2 linked regions of the Homo sapiens genome follow. The protein of the gene in region 1 interacts with the protein of each later gene in a pairwise test. Each region holds a gene or a part of one and is shown in the gene's direction. Other genes may lie near its edges.

Region 1 (3,500 bases):
CCATGTTGGCCAGGCTGGTCTCGAACTCCCGACCTCAGGTGATCCGCCTGCTTTGGCCTCCCAAAGTGCTGGGATTGCAGATGTGAGCCACCACACCTGGCCCCTAGAACAATTTTTTAAAACTATATAATGGAGATCTTTTAAAATCAGTTCAGAGAGCAGCCTTATGTTTTTTTTTTTTTTTTTTGAGACGGAGTCTCGCTCTGTCGCCCAAGCTGGAGTGCAGTGGCTTGATCTTGGCTCATTGCAACTTCTGCCTCCCGGGTTCAAGCGATTCTCCTGCCTCAGCCTCCCGAGTAGCTGGGATTACAGGCACGCGCCACCATGCCCGGCTAATTTTTGTATTTTCTGCAGAGACGGGGTTTCACCATGTTGGCCAGGCTGGTCTCGAACTTCTGACCTCTGGTGATCTGCCTGCCTTGGCCTCCCAAAGTGCTGAAATTACAGGCATGAGCCACTGCGCCCAGGCTTACTTTAAAAAAAAAATTAATTTTTTGTAGAGACAGGAGAGTTTCGCTATGTTGCCACCTGAACATAAATGCTATTTTCTTTTTCTTTTCTTTTCTTTTTTTTGAGACGGAGTCCGTAGCCCAGGCTGGGGTGTGGTGGCACCATTTTGGCTCACTACAGCCTCCGCCTCCCAGGTTCAAGCGATTCTCCTGCCTCAGCCTCCCAAGTAGCTGGGACTACAGGCGTGCACCCCTGTGCCCAGCTAATTTTTGTATTTTTAGTAGAGACGGGGTTTCACCATGTTGACCAGGCTAATCTCAAACTCCTGACCTCAAGTGATCTGCCTGCCTTGGTCTCCCAAAGTGCTGGGATTACAGGTGTGAGCCACTGCGCCTGGCCCATAAATGCGATTTTCATTCCCATTTTCCAACAAGGCGACTGAGGTATACATTGAAGGTGAATTACTAGGACAAAAGAAAGATGGCATTTTACTTCAATAACAGTTTGTTACAACCTGTACTGCTACCTATCTGCCATGGGAGTGTGCCTTTCCCCACACTGACACCAGTGCTGGAAGTTATCAACCTCCTTCATCTTTGCCAACCTGATAGGTCAAAAGTGATCATGGAAGATCCACACTCGCTTTTTTTTTTTTTTTTTTTTTGAGATAGGGGTCTATTTCTTTTTCTTTTTTCAGAGATGGGGGGTCTCACTATTTCTTTTTCTTTTTTTCAGAGATGGGGGTCTCACTATGTTGCCTAGGCTGGTTTTGAACTTCTGGGCTCAAGTGATTCTCCTGCCTTGACCTCCCAAAGTGCTGGGATTACAGGTGTGAGCCGCCTTGCTTAGCCCTTACTGTCGTTTTTTTGTTTGTTTTTGTTTTTGTTTTTTTGTTTTGTTTTGTTTTGTTTTTGAGACAGAGTCTCGCTCTGTCGCCCAGGCTGGAGTGCGGTGGTGCGATCTTGGCTCACTGCAACCTCTGCCTCCCGGGTTCCAGTGATTCTCCTGCCTCAGCCTCCCAAGTAGCTGGGATTACAGGCACCCGCCACCACACCTGGCTAATTTTTGTATTTTTAATAGAGATGGGGTTTCACCATGTTGGCCAGGCTGGTCTTGAACTTCTGACCTTAGGTGATCCATCCATCTCAGCCTCCCAAAGTGCTGGGATTACAGGCGTGAGCCACCTTGCCTGGCCCTTACTGTTGGTTTAATGCCACTCTCCCTTAGGGTGACCAACCAATCCAGTTTGCCTGGGACCATTCTGGCTCTAGCACTGAAAGTCCTGTGTTCCAAGAAACACCCACCTCTCCTCCAACCTGGGCAAAGAGGGACGGTTGGTCAACCTGCAGTCCTGGGTTATAAGTGAGGCTGAGCGTGTTTGCCCATGGTCAAGAAAGAAGGGATCTTGGATGAGGGTGTGTAACAGGATCAGATTTGTTTTGTTTTTTTCTTAGAGTCTTGCTGTGTCACCCAGGCTGGAGTGCAATGGCCTGAACACAGCTCACTGCAGCCCCAAACTCCTGGGCTCAAGTGATCCTCCCACCTCAGCCTCCTGGGTAGCTGGGATTACAGGCATGCATCACCACACCCAGTTAACTTTTTAAAGAACACTTTTTTTTTTTTTTTAAGAGACAGGGTCTTGCTATGTTGCTCAGGCTGGTCTCAAACTCCTGGGCTCAAGTGATCCTCCCGCCTTGGCCTCCCAAAGTGCTGGGATGACAGATGTGAGCCATTGTGCCTAGCCAGGACGAGATTTTTAGAGGGTAGAGTAGGAATAAGAGCTTGCACTTATGAGGCACATGATGGCTTCAGCTGTCTGCTTTGCAGAGTCTCAAGAAAGCTCTGAGAACCTTAAGCAGAGGCCATTTTACATGTGAGGACACAGAGGTACAGAGAGGTGAGATAAATGGCCAAGGTCACATACCTAAGAGGAGAAGGAGGCAGGATTTGAATCGCAGCCTGCACGTCACCCCATGGTGAGTAACTGGTAAGTGAGTGAGCATCCCTCCTCTTCTCTTGCAGGCCCCCTGACTTGGGCCTCAGTGTCCCCGAAGATCATGATGGCGTATATGAACCCGGGGCCCCACTATTCTGTCAACGCCTTGGCCCTAAGTGGCCCCAGTGTGGATCTGATGCACCAGGCTGTGCCCTACCCAAGTGAGTACAGTCGTTTCTCTTGGCACCCCAGGCTGGCCTCATCTCTTGGAGGACCTCTGGGGTCCCTTTGCCCCCAGGAAGAAGGCAATCACAGGGGCGACTTCAGGGCCATACACCAGCCCTCTGGGTTCATCTGAAATGTATGTCACTTAGAAAAACATTAGCAGTCCTAGAAATTCAGGACAGAGGTTCCTTTTGGGGTGAGGAAGAGGGGATGTAATCTGGAAGGGGAATCAAGAGGAATTTTCATCTGTTACCAAAACTTTATTATTTATTTATTTTTCAGAGACAAGGTCTCACACTCTGTCACCCAGGCTGGAGTGCAGTGGTGGTGGTCACGGCTCACTGCAGCCTCGAACTCCTGGGCTCAAGCAATCCTCCCACCTCAGCCTCCTGAGTAGCTGGGACTGCAGGTGTGAGCCATTGTGCCTAGGCCCGGGGGGCACTTTTTTTTTTTAATTTTATTTTTGAGACAGGGTCTCACTCTGTTGCCCACTCTGAAGTGCAATGGTGCAATCACAGCTCACTACAGCCTCGAACTCCTGGGCTCAAGCGATCCTTTTGCCTTGGCCTCCCAAATAGCTAGGATTACAGGTGCACGCCACCATGCCTGGCTAACTTTTTTAAGTTTTTGTAGATTTTGCAGGATCTGGATTATACAAAACATAGAAAAAATTATTATTATTTTTTTTTTTGTAGAGATTGGGTCTCCCTATGTTGCCCAGGCTGGTCTCAAACTCTTGGGTCCAAATAATCCGCCTGACTCAGCCTCCCAAAGTGCTGGGATTACAGGCATGAGCCACTGCACCTGGCCTGCAAAGCCTTATTTCTTTTTCTTTTTTTTTCTTTCGAGACACAGTTTAGACGGAGTTTCGCTCCTGCCCAGGCTGGAG
Region 2 (3,500 bases), on another chromosome or scaffold:
TCACTGCATTAGCTTATTTTTTCCTCATTTTTAGTTCTTTCAAGAATCATTAATTCCATGCTTGAAAATGTCTGAATGGCACTAATGAGGATAAGTTTTTTAATCTTTTGAATTCTTAATGTGAACTAACAGGAAAAAAATCTCAGAGCTAACAAATTAGAGTTGGTAAAGGGCCGATTTATAAGTGTCTCACAATTTATGGGTGTAAATCAAAATGTTAACTAGTACAGTCATAAGCTGTTTGTACAATCCTTAGGCTTTAACTTCTTTGGAATTGGCAAGCTAGGCATTTGACATGTATTTATATAACTGTACGGTTGTAGTTATTAATGATCTTGTCATTATTGTTGATAATGAAAAAAGATCTTCACTATAATTTCTTCGTATAATTCTTATAATGAAACAAGTAAATACTATTAACTAGAAAAAATCTAGTCTGCAGTTAGCCCACACACATCCAAACTTATCTCTGCCAGCAGCAAAAGAAAGCTTGAAAACCTTTGCCAAAATCAGAAGTTTCCCATTTAGATTACATAAGTTTCTGTTGAATTGAAATATATTTAGATAACATTTAAACCATTGATCTTTTGGTATTAACTCTCAGATGTTTCATAACTTTCTGTCTTTTTAGTATTCAGGGATATTATGTAAAGTTTTTCCTGCACTGAATCTCTGTGCTTGAGCCTACTGAAATGATCCCCCTAAGCCATGCTGCCTGCCTTTTGTGTTTAATGTTTTTTTACACTGACTTATCTCCTTCGTGTGTTCACCTCTCCCCCAGAGGAAGACAACAGAACAGTATAATTTACAGTTTGTACAGGTTAAAAAAAAAAAAAAAGGTTGTAAGGTGGGGGGGTGATATTTTGTTTTAAAATATTTGGGTAAGGAAAATTTTGTCTTTAATATTAATTCTGTAATGCTTGACCAGGCATGGTGGCTCAAACCTGTAATCCCAGCACTTTGGGAGACCGAGGCGGGCGGATCGCATGAGGCCAGGAGTTCGAGACCAGCCTGGCCAACATGGTGAAACCCCGTATCTACTAGAGATACAAAAAATTACCCAGGCGTGGTGGTGCATGCCTGTAGTTCCCGCTACTCCAGAGGCTGAGGCAGAATTGCTTGAACCCGGAAAGTGGAGGTTGCAGTTAGCTGAGACCACACCACTGCACTCCATCCAGCCTGGGCAACAGAGCAAGACTCAGTCTCAAAAAAAAAAAAAAAAAAAAAAAACATAAAAATAAAAATATAATCCTTGACTGTTACCCAGTATTTTTACATTATTTATATTAATATCATTTGATCTTCACAGAGAATTCTATGGAGTACTGTAATATTATCCTCAGAGGGAAACTGAGGCATCTATGGATAGACATGCAGTGTGGCTTAGTGATTAAAGCTCTGCATGCTGGAAGCTGACACCTGGGTTCCAATCCTGACGCAGCCCTCGCCTCTCTCCGACCTTGTGCACGTTGCCTAACCTATCTGTGTTTTGGTTTCCTTATCTGAAAAATGAGAATAGTCTCTACCTCATAGGGTGTTGTGAGAATCAAATGAGTCAAAACATGCTAAGTGCTTTAAATAGTGCCTGACACAGAGTAAATGCCCAGTAAATATTAATTCAATATTTTTAAAATGTAGAAGTGTGTTACGGCTAGAAGGGGATTTTGCTGAAAGTGGAATCTAAACCTTGCAATTTTACATCCTGTTCTGTTCTATCACTTGGTAGAGAGTAACAATTACATCCCGATTTTAGTTTACACATGTTAACTAGCAGTTTAGCATTCATCAATAAACTATAGATACTTAAAAGCTTTAGCTATCAGAAGATCAGTCAAATTATAGGTAAATACTGAATACATTTAAAGAAAATGTAGAGGGTTTTTATTATCTTTAGTAACTCAACTAGGTTAAAATGAAGAAATTTGAATTTAAACAATACAGTAGTTTCCCCTTATTTGTGGTTTCAGTTACCCACATGGTACAGTATGATAAAATATTTTGAGAGACCACTTTCATGTACGTTTTATCACAGCATATTGTTATATTGTTCTATTTTATCATCAGTTATTGTTGCTAATGTCTTACTACACCTAATTTATAAATTAAAGTTTATCACAGGTATGATAGTATATATAGGGCTTGGTACTATCTGAAGTTGCAGGCATCCGTGGGAGTCTTGGAACGTATCCCCCTTGGGTAAAGGGAGGCTCTTGCTAACTTATTTATGTCCTTACTTATTGTGCAGAGGACTTGAAACAGTAAACACTGATGTCTGTATGGTGATTATAGTTCACAATTATTTTCATTTCTATTATCGTAATTGATCCATACACAAACTCATGTGAGATAGGAGGGCAAGTATTAATATCCCTAATTCACAGATGTAAGAAAAGTTGCAAGAATTTTGGGTGACTTTCTTAAGGGAAGTAAGTGACCAAGTTAAAACTGAAAGCAGAACCCAAATATGTGCATATTGATTCAAAACACAAAGTTGATTTAAAAATTAGCACGCAAAACATAAATCTAAAATATTCTTACTATTCAGCAAATTTTTATTGAGTAGCTACTATATACCAGGCATTGTTTTAGGTGCTAGAAATATAAAAAAGGAGTAAAATAAAGTCCCTGTCCTTGTAGAGTTTGTATTTTTTGTTTCTTTTGTAATTGCAGCAAATTGAAAATCCCTAGAAAATGGGGTTTACTGCTTAATTGGCTTCTACTTAACCGAGACTATATCTCTAATTATTTTCTTTGATTCATAAGGTACTTTAAGGATTTTTTTTCTTAGTGCCTCAGGGTTACTAAAAAGATCAACTGTAATGGCTTTTGATATAAATGATAAAAAAACTGATTCAAGTGTCCCATTTCAAATGAATAATTTGTTTTTTAACTGTTTTTCATTCATCAAATGCAGAATTTACCAAAACTGAATTATCTTAGATTTCTAGTTATTTATATATTAACTTTTTGTTTATTCAGAATCATTTTTCTGTTTGTTGGAATATTTCTAAGAGCCTTGGAAAATCTCGAGTAAAATTTTAAATGAATTTGTATAGTGTTCTGCCTCTTTCCAAAGGTATTTCTCAAAATTGGAATTGTTTTATTATTGAAGTTGAATGACTTCAGGGAACTCTAAAATGCAAGATGGAAGCTTCTGTTTGGTTTTTTCTTTCCCTTTGGTAAGGTCTTTTGCTTCCCATCCCCTTGACCCACCTTTGTGCTGTCTGTTGTCCAGTCTGCTCTCCTGATCCCTAAAGATGTTTCTTATCTAGGCTACCATTTATGTGGGTAAAAGACAAGGTAGAAAATACTCTTCTGTATCTTGTATCAAGGGTTAATCTAATATCTTCATCACTTTGTTTTGAGATATTTTGGAATGTTATCAACAATTATTATAGATGGAGCATGTATGTCTTAGGTTTGGTGTTAACTGTTTAACATGCATTATCTTATTCAATCCTCACAGCAGTTATAAAATGTAGGTGTTTTAGAGGTAAGCA

Evidence for each region.
Region 2: the proteins of CRX (region 1) and LONRF1 interact in binary tests that used the Homo sapiens proteins (3 or more experiments, as listed by UniProt).

Annotation. Positions count from the first base shown.
Region 1 is NC_000019.10:47,831,937-47,835,436, forward strand, and holds part of CRX (cone-rod homeobox protein), read left to right. Parts: intron 1-2,472; 5' UTR 2,473-2,507; coding exon 2,508-2,607; intron 2,608-3,500. UniProt on the Homo sapiens protein: Transcription factor that binds and transactivates the sequence 5'-TAATC[CA]-3' which is found upstream of several photoreceptor-specific genes, including the opsin genes.
Region 2 is NC_000008.11:12,749,027-12,752,526, reverse strand, and holds part of LONRF1 (LON peptidase N-terminal domain and RING finger protein 1), read left to right. Parts: intron 1-3,500.